4 linked regions of the Homo sapiens genome follow. The protein of the gene in region 4 purifies or fractionates together with the protein of the main gene of each other region. This does not show direct contact. Each region holds a gene or a part of one and is shown on either strand. Other genes may lie near its edges. The genes, in order: CACNA2D2, COL6A2, LRP1B and DEFB123.

Region 1 (3,245 bases), on a different chromosome or scaffold from region 4:
GGTGGGAGTGGAGGTGGGGTGGGGCAGGGTGCTCAGAGGCGGCGAGAGGCGTGGACGAGGACTTGAGGCTGCGGCCGGGGCGGCAGGCCCAGGAGGAGCAGCAGTTGCAGGGAGACCAGGACGCCCAGCGACGGCGGGAAGGAGGCCCCGCGGCCACAGTCTGAGGTATCTTCCTGCGGGGAGAGACAAGGAGCTGGTCGGCCTGGGCGGGCGCAAGGCCGCGGGATTTCGGGTCCACCGCCCCCTCTCCTCACTGTCGCGTTGTAGTCGAAGCAGATGTGCGGGCCTCTCCGGTATCGCGGTCTCTGCACTAGCTCACACTGCTCCGGGCCGTCCGCTGGGCATGGGTGGGGAGTCAAGGAGGCGGACGGCGGCGGCGGCACGGAGGGGGCGCGCGGGGCAGAGGGGGAGCGGGCGGCGGGGAGGGCGGGGGCAGGATACAGTGCGTCTCCTTCTGCAGCAGCCGGCCAGCCTCGCACTGGCTGCACAGCGGCTTCTCGGCCACCACAAAGAGAAGATTGGTGTTGGTCAGTCTCTGCGCGTGGAACAGCCTGCGGGCAGCCCGGAAAGGCGGGGCGTTGAGTTTGCCCCGCCCTGACCCACCCCCATCCTGCGGCCCCGCCCCCGGCCGCTCGGAGGCCCCGCCCCTTCCATCCTCCCGAGCGTCTCGCCCCGCTCACAGGTTCCGCCCTTGGCCTCTGGTCCCGCCCCACTGCCAGCACCTGGAGCAGTTTCCGCAGTCGATGATGGCGTTGTAGGAGGCGTTTACCGAGCCGAAGTAGTACTGGGTCTGTTTCATGACGCAGCTGCTCTCGCGCGTCTCGGGGCTCCCCTCGGCCTCCGCGGGGTCTGCGAGGGCCCAGAGCGCCTCAGCTCCGCCCACAGACCCTGGCAAGGTCTCCGGCCTCCCTCAGTCGTAGACCCCACCCTCCCCATGGAGTCGTCTTAGCTCAGATTGGGGACCCGGACTTGAGGAGGCGCCTCCAAAGCCCTACCTACCTGCTTGGAACCAGCTGTGGTAGATGAGGCCGTAGAGAAGCTGCTGGAACAGGGACCTGCAGCGCACGGGGAGCCGAGTGCAGGTGGTCAGCAGAGGACGATGCCATGCCCTACTTCTCTTCTGAGCCCTCCCGGCCAGGGAGCACCTTCTCTACCCACCTCCCGCTCAGGACTCACCAGGCGGCAGCAGAGGTCCACCAGGCCAGGTTAAGGAAATCTGCAACGGTGGGCTGCAGTGGAGAGAGGGGCGTGGACTGCCACTGCTGCCCCTCGCCCTAGGTCACCCCCAGCTTTATCAAATGTCAGAGGTAGGGGGTCATCTGTGGGCAGGTCTCCCAGTCCCCCCCATCTCCAGTCCAGGCATCTCTGGGGACTCACCACAAAGACACCCCGGGGTGCAGCACCCAGGTTGCCAGGGGGCTGAGGGGCACAGGCTGCCTGATAGTCATAGGACTCCTTGCGGGTGTAGAAGGAGTTATTGTAGAGTGCCAGCATCAGGTTGGCATCCACCTCACTGAAGAACCTGCCCACCTGAGGATGTCAGGAGAAAGCCATGGTCACAGGGCTGGCAGTGCTACACCCCTAGAAGGCTCAAATCCCTACTCTCTTCTTTCACTCTCTTCCTGATCCTCACCTGGTCCCACTGATGGTTCTGGTTTGACAGCACCAGGAATCCTCCATCATCAATGAGGACACAGAGTAAGTCCTAGGAGGAAGGGAATGGGGAGGAAAATGGAGAGGGGCTGGGCCCCGGACCTTCCACCGCAGGCAGTCCAGTGGTTCAGAGTTGGGGGGCATCACTCCCCCAGTCCTGGGAAGGCTGTGAAGTCAGGGTGGGGATGTTGAGACCCACAGGCCAAGGGATGTGCTGGGAGTCGCGGCTGGGACTAGGAAGTCTGGAAGTGGGGTAAGCTAGGGTCCAGGGTAGGTTCAGGGCACACACACCTCATTGTTAACCTCGCAGTCCATCTCACAGTGGCTGTTGGGGCCGCACTGCTGGGCAGAGAGTGAGGACCGTAAGCCACCCACCAGTTTTCCTCCCTCCCATCACCTTTCATACATCCGGTTCCCCAGGCCATCTGCAGCTGGCCCTGCCTCCATGTAGGTGTTGGAGCCACTGAGTGGAGGGTTGGTGGGGGTTCCAGGGGACTCCAGGAAGGGCACTGCTGGGTTACTGCCCCCGCCCCTGCCCAAATACCTTCTGAGGCTGGTCTTGGTGGGTACGGTTGCTGGCTAGCACCTTGAACTTCTCAGCCCAAGCCTCTAGGTCCAGCTTGACGCCCACCACTTTGGGGGAGAGCAAGGGACCATCAGTGCTACCTGCCCAGGCAGTACCCTGTCCATTGCCTGTTTCCCCACCTCTGTCCCAAACATTCACCTGCTGGCCTCAGTGTGCGCCTGCCTAGGCTGAGCTCCACAGCTGTGCTGACGAGGATGCCCACAGTGTCATTCTCCAGCTCCAGCGGCCTTAACAGGGCTGGGGGTTGGGTGGGGAAGTCAGGAGTGGGGTCTGGCGGCCACACTGACCACTCTATGCTGGGTCCTACAAACCCAGCAGTCCAATCCCGGGATGACTCCAGCCCAAGCACCCAGCACTCAGGACAGTGTTTGGCACAGTCTATCCCTCTTTTCACGTCTGCCCTGGCCTCAGCCAGCCTTGTGTTGGAGAGGGGCCTCAGACAGCAGAGCCCAGTTCTGGCTGAGCAGACAGGGAAGCTGAGGCTCCCTGCCTGCTGCTGGGCACACTGCGGGGACACTCACCATCCTGGTGTGGGGGCTTGAAGACATAACCGTGGTTATCCAGGCTGCGGCGGTAGAAGCTGGCATTGAAGGGCTCAGGGTTCTCTGTCCAGTCCTCAGCTGCCCTGGAGCACCCAAGAGGCAGACTGGTAGGTAAGGGGTGGCTTGTCGGGGACAGTGGTCTCCACAGATGCAAGGAGGCCTCTGGGCAGAACAGATGCAGGTTCCCTGGCAGGGGCAGGGTTTGGGTAGTGGGATAGGTCACTTACTTGTTGGGGAAGACTCGGGTGATGCCACCGTCTGTGGCAGCGAACACGGCCAGTAGGCTGTACCTGGGGGTAGCAGGGGGGTGGGGTCACAGGCCTGCCTTCTGCTGGGCAGGTCCAGGGCCTCTGGGCCCATCCTAGCCTTCTGCCCCCACAGGCTGGGTGATGCCTACGTGTTGAGATCCTGGTCCCTCCACACACGCTCTACCAGCTGCTGCGTGATGCCCGTGTCCAAGATCA
Region 2 (4,721 bases), on a different chromosome or scaffold from region 4:
CTCGGGTGAGCTTATCCCAGGATAGGCTGATCTCTGGTCCAGTGTCTCGGGTAAGCTCACCTTAGAGCAGGCTGAGCCTGGTCCACTGTGACTTAGGTGAGGTATTCTAGAGCAGGCTGAGCCCCAGTCCAGTGTGGTGACTTGTATCCTTATCCAGGAGATCAGGAACCCTGGGATGCTGGGGAGAGGCCGGGGCAGGCCCTTCTCTAGTCCTCCTCTAGCCCTCCAGAGGAAGCATGGCCCGGCTGATGCCTCCAGGCCTGTGGCCGATACTGGTAGTTGTTCAAGCTGTGTCTGTGGTGCCCTGTGATGGCCACCAAGCCCACTCCTGTCAGGTCAGCACCTGCCTGTGGAGCCTCTGGTTCACTGTGGGGCTCCTGAGCTGAGCCTGAAGGACCCTGGGGTCTGAACAGCAAAAACTCACTGAGATCTCCACACAGAACACAACAGGCTCAGCACCTGCTGTCTCCCCGTCTAGTGTTAATCATGCGTCCACCCACAGAAGACCCTCAGCCATGGTGACACTTCTTAGAGCACTTTGGGCCTGGCTGGGGCTGGAGGGAGAGTTTGCTGATCAAGGCTGTGGGGTCTGCACAGGCGGGGTCAGCCAGCACCTGCAGTTGATGTCCTAGGAGGTCAGGGCTGGGCCCGGGGGAGCCATTGACCCTGGTGGGCGAGCGACAGCTGCAGTGTTTCCCTCCTGGCCACAAGACACCTTTGAGGTCTCTCCTGCGCACAGAAGCTCGCAAGCAGGCACGCAATGGGTTCAAAGCCTTTATTGGGTCAGGGCTTGCTCCAGAGCTCAGGGGCCAGGTAGGTCAGGAGCCTTGGGATGGCTGCAGGGGGAGGGAGGCCGGGCAGCCTGCGGAGGGCCTGGGGAGACCTGGGGCTGGGCGGGGGCCGGGGCTACGGGGACCCCGTGGGAGGAGCTGGAGAGGTGCAGGCCCAGGGCGTCGTCCGAGTGAGCAGCGGTGCTGGCCGTGTGGGACCCGGGCCCGCTTAGCACCATGGACGGGGTGGGCTCACGACCCTCGACTGCGGGGCCCGGGCGGCGGCGCTAGCAGATCCAGCGGATGAAGCGGTCGAAGAAGCCGGGTTGCGCCAGGCTGTCATAGTCCTTCTCGTGGAACACGGCGGCGCGGTCACCCAGGCTGAGCGTGGTGAGCACGTCCATGTCCACGTCGCTGCCCAAGGCCAGCACGGTGGGTACCACGTTCTGCTTGCGCATGGAGTGCGCCGACTCGTGCAGACTGTCGTTGCCCGTGACGCCGTCCGTGAGGAACACGAAGGACAGCTCTGCGTGCCTCCGGGCCCCGCCACGCGGGCTGCGCACGATGGCATTGATGGCGTGCACCACGCCTGCGCCCACGTGCGAGAAGGAGTTCAGGTATTGTGTGGTCTCCAGCGCCTCGTGGATGGCCGTGAGGTTGTGGCTCAGCGGGAAGGCCACCTGCTGCTCGCCGGGGCCACCAAACTGCAGCAGCGCCACGCGTGCGTTGAGAGGGTCGTCGTCCCTCCGGGCCAGCGTCAGCCGCCGCGCCACCTGCTCCACGAAGCGCCGGGCCTTGTGGAAGTTCTGCTCACCCAGCCGCTCGGAGCCGTCCAGCAGGAAGACGATGTCCACGGGCCGCTGCGTGCACTGTGCCACGGACAGCTCTGTGGGGAGACGCAGGTGCGGGCTGGGCGGAGGGGAGGTGGGCAGGACCGGGCAGGTGCCAGCCCCGCACCTGTGCCCTTCCATTCGCACCCTGCCTGCAACCTCACAGACCACTGGGCTCTGCGGGGGCGTTTCTGCAGGGCAGCCCTGGGTGTGGGTCCTTAGCCCAAGACACTTTCAGGCGGCACTGCTGGGAGCCGCCATCTCCTCTGCTGGTGCTCCCAGGCCTGAGACCCTGACACAGGCCCCAGGCCCTGTCCACCTGCTGAGCACCATCCCTGCACAGGCTGCCCTCCTGGGAGGGAAGGGGCCCAAAGCATCCTTTCATGGCTCAAGAATTTGCTGCCCACAAAAGGGCCACTGTCTGTGTAGTGTGGGAGGTACTTAAGGAGGACCCTGGCTCTGACACCCCCAGCCTGACCCCTCAATCGCTGGGTCCCAGAGCTGCTCAGAACACCTAGAGCTGGCTGGGCCACGTCCCTCCCGGAAAGACCAGGAGCCCCTGACTCTTCTGATTGGCCATGGTGGGGAGCAGTGGGCACAGGGGCAGCCAGACCTTCTGTGGCAGCCCAGGTGGGTTCTGCCCTATGACTCTGTTACCAAGTGGGGCCCCCACCTGCCTGGGTGGTCACCAGCCCTGGGCATCGGGGACAGCTTGGGGGCCTGGCCATAGCCACAACCCAGGCCAGGCTGCCTACCACACGTGTGGGTGTCACGTGGGGCCAGAGACCACAGGACAGGACACGGACAGTCCTTGCGTGGACCTGGCCCTGTGGCCTCACCAAGACCTCAGCTCCTGGGATGGGGGAGGGGAGGGACAGAGCCAGTTTCCCCAAGGGTGTCTGCTTCTCAGCCCAACCCCTGGACGTCGTCACAGCTGGTACATGGACCCCCAGGAATGCACACAGAGGACCCTGACCCGAAACTCGGTTTCTGGGGGCCCTGGAGGTGCAACGGTCCAGCCCCGCAGGCAGTGAGCAAAGCTCTGAACACAGCAGGGTGACCTCACGCTGCACCGCAGCCTTCACAGAACGCTTGAGACATGGACGCCGTCTGAGCACGCACGAGCTGGCAGATGGGGTTCCCTCAGTGAGCTTATGAGTGACGCAGCTCATTCAGTGAAAGGAAGGGCAGCCTCCCTGTTAAGGCCACACCTAGGAACCGGCTTAAATGTCCAGAAACTCCTCAGGTACCGCTGGGCTTCCCAAACCCCCTCAAAACTAATAACATTTTCACTGCTGTCACCAAACATATGGAGACAGACATGCAAGGGGCAGCTGGTTTTGGGGGTCTCTGTCCATTCATCAGTGTCTGTGGGGCCTGGAGGAGACGGGGAAGCTGTGGGGGCCGGCCAGGCACAGGGAGGCTGAGGCTGTTGGGATGTCTGTGGACTCTGCTCTCCTCCTCCTGTGGAGGATCCTTCATCCCCACAGTGGGAAGACCAGCCTGGCCTGCCCTGTGCAGTGGGTGTGGGGACGAGAACCTGGCCCTGAGAAATGGTCACAGCCGTGCCCGGCAGGAGCCCAGCCTGGATGAGGGCTCCTGCAGTCAGAACGTCGGGGTCAGCTCGCCGTGGGGGCCGCTCCCTTTGGATGGTGATCCCTGCCGCTCCCCAACATTGTGGACCCTGGGATTCTCTGCTCAGTCCTCTGAGGACCGCAGAGGTTGTGCCTGGTGGATGCTCCCCCGACTGTGCTTTTGGAGACCCAGAGGTTGGGCTGGAAGGGTGCAGACACCCCGGGATCAGGGCTGCTGGCAGGCAGCTGTGGCCATTCGCCCTACTGTGCATGACACCAGCCCAGATACGTCATGGTGCCAGGACTGCCAGCTTCCCCCAGGACTATCTGCTGCCCAACCGGAAGCCTTCACCTGCCACCAGGTGGGCCGTGAGCGCCCACGAGTCACCATGCACGGGATTAGTGCCCACACCCAGCGAGGCTCACCAGCCTCTGGGGCCTGTTTCCGAGGCTCCGCTGGAACCTGGTGCTGGAACATCCTCCAGCACCTGGGCAGCACCCTCCCTCAGCCCCATCCCAGACGCACGGCAGCCCAGCTGGGCCGCTAAGTAAGGGCCTCCAAAGACTTCCACACCCAAACCCTGGAGCCTGTGAGGGTGACCTGATGCAGCAAAGAAGGACTCTGCAGACGGGAGTGAGTTAAGGGTCTTGCGAGGTCATTCTGGACTTGGGGTGGGCCTTAAATTCAATGACCAGGGTTCTTATAAAGAGAGCGGCCACAGGAAGACGGAGGAGAGACTGGAAGATGCAGCCGCAGCAAGGGACACGGTGGCCACCAGCATGGGAAGAGGCTGGGAGCTGCCCCAGAGCCCCTGGAAGGACTGTAGCCCCGCTGACCCCGATTCCAGATCTCTGGCCTCCACTGAGAGCCAGCCTGTCGGGGGCAGCCCTGGGAAGCTAGTGTGGCAGGGAGGGCCCAGCCCGGCTGGGCGGGTGCCCGGGCTTTAGCAGAGGGCCAGCGCGGTCTCGGGGTCCCCCACGATGTCCCTGTGCACCAGCTTAAAGGTGTCAATGAACAGCTCCATCCAGTCCTGCCGCTCTACCCCGGTGGCGAACTTGGCCCGCTCGGCGGTGTAGACCAGCACGGCCACCAGCTGGGAGTAGGCGGCCGGGTCCTGCGTGAGCTCCGTGGCGTTTAGCAACTGTTGGATCAGGGGAATGGTCCTGGGGAAGGTGGCGTCCGGCCCCTCTTCCGTGCGGAGGAAGGTGACCGGGGGCTCGCCGCCAGGCCACGGTGCATCTGCAAGGGAGCGTCCAGAGAAGACTGTAAGGCCTGCGGTGGGCGTCGGCCTAGAGCTCCTCCTCGGGCAGCCGCTCAGCGAGGCCAGAGTGAAGAGCGGCATTTGGGCTGGCGAGTCGGTAGAGGAAATGCAGGTGGAGCGGGTGTGTGGCTCGGCCTTGGCAGGAGGCGTGGGGGCAGTGAGCACAGGGACAGGAAGCTGGCAGGGAGCTAGGAGACCCGCACGGTGGCACCTTTGGGGGACACCACGGACCCCGAGAAAACCTTTCAGCACAAAACAGCTCCGTCCAAACCTGTGCCGGAGACA
Region 3 (3,984 bases), on a different chromosome or scaffold from region 4:
CCTATTCTTACCACGTTTCAAAAAAGCCAAAATTATTTTTAACTTATTACTAGCTTTATTGTCCTTTCACATCTTTAATCTGTGACCTGCTGTGTCATATTTTTGAAGGTATAATCATTTTTCACAATATTTGTAGTAGAAGATTTATCAATTGTCATTGCTTTTATTAATCCACTTAAAATATTAAAGCTTCAATTTCAAACTTCCCTGGGGCTTTCTTTTTTCTTTCTTAAAATTTTTACTTATTTATTTTTTTACCTTTTAAGTTCATGGATACAAGTGCAGGTTTGCTACCTAGATAAACTTGTGCCATGGGGGTTTGTTGTATAGATTTCCATTCACGCAAATAGACCTGTCTTGAGGTTTTCTTTTAAGCTGTTTCTGATGACCTACCTCCATGCCTTCGAAGGTATCATGGGCTATTCTTTCATCCCGTAATGCCCTTGCCCACTTTTCCATACAGAATTTCTACTCATCTTTCAAGATCCACCTGAAATAAAGCCTTCCTTGGTCTCCAACCATATATGGGAGTGATGATTCATCCTTAGTTTCTCCAGTTTTTGCTCTCCTGGTGTTTCTCTCTTACACTGTTGCTTATATTTCAGGAATGTGGTTACATATTCATATTCCCTTGAGGACATAAATTATGATACATTCCTTTTTTATTGCCAGATTTTGCACAATGACTGGCAGAGAACAAAGATTTGGGCACATCTCTAACACACTTCTGGACTCATATATATGAAGTGACTACGTAACAAGAAGGGCTGTATTGAGGTTATGTGATGTGAATTAAGCAAGCAAAATCTGCATGCCTATATATGAATAAATACCTCTAAATCACTAGCATAAATAAATAAATCACAGGCAGTATTCATGTGATTTAATCAGAGTCATGTAGCTTGGCACATGACTCTAATTTTAAGGGCTTATGAAGAGCCAGGATTGAGGCCAGGTGATTCTAGGGAATTATCTAATTTTCCTCTCTTTTCCTCCTCTACTTTTGTGTTTAGCCAGCATATTTCCCCTGCCTCATTTTATCACTTATAATCTCCTAATTACCTAATAAATCTGTGAGATAAATCCTTCCCTTGAATTAGAGAACTTAAGAATCAGCACAGTAAGAATAACTATCTTTTGCGTAGCACACAAACAATGTTCTAAGGGCTCAGAGGTAGAGACACTTGTAAATCACAACGTCAAGGCTTAAACTCAGGTTTTCTGATTTTGTTGACTTTACTGTGATACTTTGCCTAAGAACACATAAGCATTTTCATGACCACACATTGCTATTTGATTGAAATGTAGAGTAAAGAGATGCAGAAAAGTGTATTTCGTTGTTTTTAATAAATATTTTACAGGAATGAAGTAGAATGCATCTTGTCAGTACTTAACCATCACGATTACAACAAATATTTCTGATTTGTTCAGCCCCTGTAACTTTGAACCGGCAGTTATTTGTCACTATGGTTTCCCTTTGGTACAGAATCCAAATAAGCAGTATTCTGCATGATTTCATACAACCTCAACTTCCTCACTTGTCATTATACTGGCCTGAACCATCATTTTCGCCTCATCTCTAGAAAGCCTGGATCATGAGCTTTTGAAGGGGATGGAGGAATTCCACACATGCCTAGTACCCAAAACAGTACCTGGCACTCAGCAACTGTTAATCCCCTTCTAATTTTCTTCCACCATTCCTCTTTACTTTTTTCCCTTTAGATATTCTAATTGAAGTGTTTGGGCTTTAACATCAAATAGCAATTTCTTATGCATTTTTTCAGATACATAAGTGAAGGGCACAAACAAATTTAAATTTTTGGATTATAGAATCCAATTATGTCTTACCCTTCTTTGACACTGAAATAGAACTATTTTCCTTAAAATCAAAACTTTATTTATTAAAAATAGATGAACATTTTATTAGAGTTCAGAAGTTACTCGTCTGTCCTACAAAATAATACAAAAAAGTGGATTCATAGCAATTTAAAATAAAGAATGTAGTGTGCAGGTTATATTTGCTGTGGAATGTAATTAAAAATTAAGAAAACTTTAATAATATAATTTCTAAATTTAGTACATATATACAGAAAAAACCCACTGACAAATATTAGAAAATAAATGTTATTGAAATTAAAATATTGAAAGAATTGTGTGTGTGTGTGTTTATATGTAATTGATAGAAAGAGCCTGGGAAAAATAAATACCATAGTTTGAAAGATAATTCATTTTTTAACTAAAACACAGAAAACCTAGGTTGTCATCTTTCAGTCTCATAGTAATGGAACAATCAAATGTCACGAATAATCCAAATACACATTTAACTCAAAATGTAGATAAACATGACGTGACTACACTTTTTCCCCTTTTGGGTGAGTAGAATCAATTCATTTAAATAATTCCATTTTGATTAACACGAAGTAGAATCATTTTTCTTAACCTCAAAATATCACAAAGAGACATAACAAAAGCAAGCTGGTAGGTAAAAGCACTTAAAGACTTGAATTTAGCCTGGATAAGCCAGACTTAGTTATTTTAGGTTTGGCTGTACTTACATTAATATGAATATGAATACAAATAGCAGTTTTATTGGAGAAACTTGCAGAAAGTGCATATGGGTCTGTATTTCATGGTTCTATAGTTAGAACACTGATGTAATTATATTTACTTACTTACTATAAGATTTTGGCTATCCTACATGCTCAATTTTTAAATGATCTCAAGTAAGTTGACAGATTTATGTAGATCCTGACTTTGAATTTTTAAAGATACATTATGATCTATTTAAAACATGGTTTTAGGACAAAAGCCCATGACTCTCTAAATGTGATTTACCTATTCCAGTATTGCAAATTCCACACTCAAGAGAAATGGGTCATCATAAACATATTTTTTCATGAAGCAAGACTAATTCTCCAATAGTTCCTGAACCAGGAATTTCGTTATTTGCATTTCAAAACAGTATTGTAGCAATAGAATTGAAATTCCTGCAGCTCTGAATTTGCTATAGAAAAAGCTTTGTAGCCTCTGTCGTGGTTAGCTTAGCTCCACAAACAAGCTCTTGACCCCAGAGACTTTCATTCTCATAAGTGAAATGGTATCCCGTAGATACACACCATTTTGATGAAAGTCAATCCCCTGTGATCTCACAATTTAGAAGTCTTGGGAATCTTCATAACCCAAAGATTTATGAGCAAACTGTTGAAGAAAAGTACTCTACCTTCACATTGTCTGTTTTTCATGTTTCTCTGAAATCCAGGCTTACAGCGACAGAAAACAGATGTTTTTATTTGATTACAATATGCATCATCTCCACATGGATTCACATTATCTTCACAGGTATATTCAGTAGGAGCTGGGATTTAAAAATATGATCAAAACTAATATAATTCTAATTCCTGAAGTGGGGAGTTAACTTTTAAAAAATGTTTGAAATGGTATTTATTATTCCACAGATAACTCTTTTTGAATGTACAAGGTTACGGTCTTCTCTCCATATAAGCCCCCATGTCTTATAAATGTATAGAAGTATAAAAACTAAACTCATTAACATTAAATACAGATTAGACCAAGCTGCTAACAGTTGATATTTAGAGCTGCTGTTAAGCTGTAACACTTTTTAAAAATAAGTCAGGAGTCAATGATTCTAATGACAGGCTATCTTTATTATAGTACGATATATGAGTACTACATCCTTCTCTGAGAGCCAAAGCATTTCCTATAAGCTACCTAGAAATTTAGGCATTTATTGCTAACCTAAGCTTAATATTTGTAAACTCAATCAAGGGTACTGCTAAGTTACTCAAGCAAGTTGTCTAAATCAGCAGTTTAAATTTCATTTTTTTATGCTGGACATACATATGAAGAGTAACATTTGAGTGTGTAATGTGCTCATAATGGTTGGTCATAAGCTGCAACATTTTAGGACAGACAAAAAGTTACTTGTAATTTCCAGGATAGCAGTTGCAATTTTATTACTTTATC
Region 4 (4,627 bases):
AATGATTTTGCAAGACCCACACAGTGTACTTGGGAGTTGGGGTCAAGAGAAAAGACCTGTGATATAAGTGGTTCAGAGACTTGGGGGCTGATAAGGGCAGGCTAGAGAATCCTTATCTGAAAACCCAATTACCTTGCCCTGTTTTGGTGTTGAAAACCTGGATTGCTGCATTCTTTTACTTTCTGTGTCTTTTATATAGAAAACCATATAATATGATGGATATATTGATCCCTACTGCACATCTGCCCCAAATCCTTAATTGAAGAGATTGAGACCCAGAAAAAAAAAAAAAGTAATTCTTCCAAGGTCACATAGAAAGCTAGTAGCAGTGTCAGGACTAGTTACCCAATATTTTCAACTCTGCTGTCACTCTCAATACAAAAATCCTCCATATATCCTGGCATTTCAGGCAGTGGGAAAATCTCTTCTTTTAGGGAGAAAAGAATCCAACAGATACATTATTTCTCCAGGCCTGGGCAACAGAGCAAGACCCTGTATCCAAAACAACAACAAAAACAAAAAGATAAAAAATAGTTTTTAAAATTAAGAAAAAAAAAGAAATGAAATGAGCCTCCTTACCAAAAATGAACAGCACAGGAAAGGTGGACTTCCAGGCTTTCCACTGAGTCCCTTCCTAGCCAGTGTCTCTTCTTCTCTTCATTGTAAGGGTTTTAGAAAGAATTATTTACACTTGCTGACCTCACTGTTTCACTTACCTTTCAGTTTTCAACCCCATTGACTGTTTTCTGCCCCTACAGAAATGGCTTTCACTGTTGTTGTTGTTGTTGTTGTTTTTCCCTTGTAATCCCTCTGTATGCTATTATACCCTTGACATCTGTTTCAAGCAGGGTCCAGTCAGAGAAACAGTAACTACAGGATGCAGCTACCACCCGAGGGCTGAGGGAACTAAAGGAAAGAGATGCCTTTTCTTTTCTTTTCTGAGACAGAGTCTTGCTCTGTCGCCCAGTCGGGAGTGCAGTGGCGCGATCTCGGCTCACCACAGCCTCCCCAGGTTCAAGCGATTATCTTGCCTCAGCCTCCCAAGTAGCTGGGATTATAGGCATGCACCACCACACCTGGCTACTTTTTGTATTTGTAGTAGAGATGGGGTTTCACCATGTTGGCCAGGCTGGTCTCGAACTCCTGACCTCAAGTGATCCACCCACCTTGGCCTCCCAAACTGCTGGGATTACAGGCGTGAGCCACCGTGCCCGGCCAAGAATGAGTTTTCAAAACCCGAGTTCAGAAGAAGGATTCTGAGTGGTTGGTTCTCAGATCTCTGAGGAAGCGGAAGGATGACCCTAGGGGGAGGGCCACCGCATGTTAGAACCCAGCAGGGGGCTGTGACAGACAGGCTGGTGCTCGGAGCTTCATCTCTTTCTGCCGTTTTCCTCTCAGTTTTTGCTCTGGTTATGTCATATTTCTCATTTTCAACACCAACATGAGCCTTTGTACAGACATTCCTCCACCTGGAACCCCATTTCAGCTCATCTACCTGTTGCTTTGTATTTATTCTTCAAAACTCTGCCGTCTTCCCTGACCTTCCGGAGCCGGTGTTTGTGGCGCCTCCTGCTGGTCACTGGGTTCAGGCAGTTTGGAGCTGGGTGGAAGGAACGGGTAGTATATTAAGTCTTGGGCCCTGGACCTTGTTGGCTGTCCTCTCCCTGCTGACCTAAATGACAAAGGGAGGGGTGTCCAGTCAGAGTGTGAGGGCTGTACCCGTGGGCAGCTGAGGGAGTGCGAGCCACAGGCCAGGCACTCTCCTTCTCCCATTAGCTCAGCCGTGGCATCGGACTTGCAGCTTCATTTTGGGCTGCCTTAGCCATGAAGCTCCTTTTGCTGACTTTGACTGTGCTGCTGCTCTTATCCCAGCTGACTCCAGGTAACCTGAACCTCCTTAAGGAAGGGGCAGGGCTTAGAGACTAAGGCCTGGTCAGAGAATCCCAAGGGCTAGAAGGATGGGCTGCAGGTTGTCATCTAGCACCACGTATAGGAGGCAGGAGGCGCCTCACCAGCAGCAGGTGCCAGCTGATAGATGACAACTACAACATCCAGAGCTGCTCTCTCAGCGGCTCCATCCCTCCTCTTCCTGCCCAGCTCCAGGGAGCATGTGGGGGTGGCCTAGTGTGTGAGGAGGAGTGGGAGGGGTGAGCAAGAGAAGCAGGAAAGAGGAGAGGCAGGTATGGCCCTTTTGCAAAATAGTCCCCAGAATGAACGAAGCTTTGTGAAGATCACAGCTACCTTAATGGGAGAGAAAGCTCATTTGTACTTAGCTGTCTCTGTGCCAGACTCTGCGCTGGAAGCTAGGACCACGGAGATAAATGACATGGTGCCAGGGGAACTAACTGGAGGAGACAGTTAAATAGCATTTATAACCCAGGGTGACACGGCTGTGGCAGTGGGAAACCAGGGGGCTGGGTACACATGGTCCAGCCCAGGCTGAGGGAAAGGAGAGTCCTCCTGGAGGGATATCCTGAGTCCTAAAAAGTGAGTCGAAAATAGAAAAGGAAGGAGAGGGGAAAGCAGAAGGGTGTCCCAGGCAGAGAGGTCAGCCTATGCAAAGGTTGGATGCGGGAGAGAGCATGGGAGTGTCGGGGACCTGCATAACATGGAGGGGTGGGTTAGGAGAGAGGCGGGGGTAAAGCTGAGGAAGCATTCAAGCTCCAGGTCTCAGTGGGCCTCAAATGCCAGGTGAGGGACCCATGGGAAGGTTTAAACAGAGAAAGACCCTGGTCAGACCTACCACCCACCAATTCCAGCATGAGCCACCTATCCCTTCCTGCTCATCTGGCAGAAGTTTCCACCCACCCTAAGGCTGTCGGCTAACCTTTCTACAGAGTCAGAAACGTGTGAATTTCCTAAACAAGCTGACCTCCGTCCTTGTGTCTTCCTGAGGCCCTAAAACACCACTCACCTGGAGTAGGGAGGAAAGCCCAGACCCCGGGTTAAAACCTGCCCCATCATTTTCTGACTCTGTGAGCCCCAACAAGAAGCTCAGCTGCTCAGAGTATCAATTTCCTCATTTCTCAAACTGCAATAACATCAAGTGTGTAATAATATCAGGTTGAGGGAACAACATTGAACACACTGAAATTTTGGTCTGCAAAAGAAATATGGCTTCTCTATTTTCTCTAACTCACCAAACTTTCCCAGGAACTTCCATCCTGACTGTGGGAGTTAGTGGTGGGAGGAGCAGGACTACAGAGATAAATGACATGGCACCAGGGGAGCAAACTAGGGGAGACAGTTAAATAGCACTTACAACCCAGGGTGACAAGGCACATAGGGGCTGGGCCTGAACTCAGCAGTTCAATATTTGTCTTTTCTGTTTTAAAATGATTTCTAAGCTAATTCAATCTCTTTTGAATAAGTGTTGAGTCTTTCAGCATGTCTCTTTCTTCCATCACCCTTTCTCTTTCCTGGGATAGTATCTGGTTACAGGGAAAAGTAACTTGATATGTCATCAAATAATTAATTGCTTCATTCAGTAAATACAGTTGAATGGATTTCTTGTTCCAAGCACTGTGATGGGTGCTAGAGGTAGAACTGGGAACAAAACAAGATAAGCAAAATCTCTGTCCTCTTGGAGCTTACCTTCTACTGGAGGACCCAAAGAATTTGAAAAATAAATGAAACATATGGTATGTCAGATAATGAGTACAGTGAGCAGAATAGGCAGGAAAGGAAATAGTGAACACCAGGGGAAGGGGAAGGTCATTTGCTTTTTTTTTTTTTTTTTTTTTGGAGACAGGGTCTTGCTCTGTCACCCAGGCTGGAGTGCTGGAGTGTAGAGGCACGATCTTAGCTCACTGCAACCTCCACCTCCCGGATTCAAGCAGTTTTCATGCCTCAGCCTCCTAAGTAACTGGGATTACAGGCGCCTGCAACCACGCCTGGCAAATTTTTGTATTTTTAGTAGGATACGGTTTGGCCATGTTGCCCAGGCTGGTCTTGAATCCCTGACCTCAAGCAATCTGCTTGCCTCAGCCTCCCAAAGTGCTGGGATTACAGGCTTGAGCCACCATGCCCGGTCTTTGCCATTTTTAAGGGGTTGTTCATGGAATGTCTCACTGTGACCTGAGGGAACAACCGGTGTGAGCATGTGGCTATGGAGGGAAGGAAATTCAAGCTGGGGAAAACAGCAAGTGCAAGGGTCCTGGGATAGGAACATAAGGAGGTGGGGTCAGGTCCTGTGCTGGACCCTTACTGACTTCTGGGATCACGACCCTCGTTGGATGTGGTTAGTAGCGTCCTGCTAGCACTTACTACTGGATTTCATGACTGATGAAATCTCTCAGCCCTTTTGGGGTCCCCACTGACTCGACCCTTCATCTCAGCCAGATCTTCCATCTGGTCCCCAAGTTAAGGCTGTTCACACCCTCCCTTACTGCCTTCTGCACTAGGGGTGTACTCTTGGCAGGTCCCTCACTGGTTTTCCTATCTCAGCCAGAGACAAGGGAACCTGGGGACCTTCTGGGTCTATTTTATTCAACAGAGAGCTGACAGTGATGCTCAGCCACTTCCCTTAGCCATTTCTAATCCCCCTTCAGGTAGCACCATGCAGTGCTATATCCATGCTAAAGATAAGAATTTCTCTGAAGAGCTACCAGTTTCCCTGAGCTATGCT

What was found.
Region 1: the proteins of DEFB123 (region 4) and CACNA2D2 purify together in Homo sapiens (affinity purification with mass spectrometry; one large-scale study listed by BioGRID and IntAct). This does not show direct contact.
Region 2: the proteins of DEFB123 (region 4) and COL6A2 purify together in Homo sapiens (affinity purification with mass spectrometry; one large-scale study listed by BioGRID and IntAct). This does not show direct contact.
Region 3: the proteins of DEFB123 (region 4) and LRP1B purify together in Homo sapiens (affinity purification with mass spectrometry; one large-scale study listed by BioGRID and IntAct). This does not show direct contact.

The regions. Positions count from the first base shown.
Region 1 is NC_000003.12:50,364,634-50,367,878, forward strand, and holds part of CACNA2D2 (voltage-dependent calcium channel subunit alpha-2/delta-2 isoform b precursor), read right to left. Parts: coding exon 3,179-3,245; exon of another isoform or gene 3,163-3,178; intron 3,072-3,162; coding exon 3,009-3,071; intron 2,889-3,008; exon of another isoform or gene 2,865-2,888; coding exon 2,761-2,864; intron 2,477-2,760; coding exon 2,378-2,476; intron 2,287-2,377; coding exon 2,198-2,286; intron 1,996-2,197; coding exon of another isoform or gene 1,993-1,995; coding exon 1,945-1,992; intron 1,706-1,944; coding exon 1,634-1,705; exon of another isoform or gene 1,531-1,633; coding exon 1,378-1,530; exon of another isoform or gene 1,230-1,377; coding exon 1,177-1,229; exon of another isoform or gene 1,056-1,176; coding exon 1,000-1,055; exon of another isoform or gene 850-999; coding exon 723-849; intron 552-722; coding exon 442-551; intron 344-441; coding exon of another isoform or gene 338-343; coding exon 255-337; intron 174-254; coding exon 33-173; 3' UTR 1-32. UniProt on the Homo sapiens protein: The alpha-2/delta subunit of voltage-dependent calcium channels regulates calcium current density and activation/inactivation kinetics of the calcium channel.
Region 2 is NC_000021.9:46,128,889-46,133,609, reverse strand, and holds the end of COL6A2 (collagen alpha-2(VI) chain isoform 2C2 precursor), read right to left. Parts: intron 4,708-4,721; coding exon of another isoform or gene 4,682-4,707; exon of another isoform or gene 4,415-4,681; coding exon of another isoform or gene 4,119-4,414; exon of another isoform or gene 3,809-4,118; intron 1,657-3,808; coding exon 1,058-1,656; 3' UTR 762-1,057; downstream 1-761. UniProt on the Homo sapiens protein: Collagen VI acts as a cell-binding protein.
Region 3 is NC_000002.12:140,353,122-140,357,105, forward strand, and holds part of LRP1B (low-density lipoprotein receptor-related protein 1B precursor), read right to left. Parts: intron 3,356-3,984; coding exon 3,221-3,355; intron 1-3,220. UniProt on the Homo sapiens protein: Potential cell surface proteins that bind and internalize ligands in the process of receptor-mediated endocytosis.
Region 4 is NC_000020.11:31,438,875-31,443,501, forward strand, and holds the start of DEFB123 (beta-defensin 123 precursor), read left to right. Parts: upstream 1-1,757; 5' UTR 1,758-1,824; coding exon 1,825-1,882; intron 1,883-4,627. UniProt on the Homo sapiens protein: Has antibacterial activity.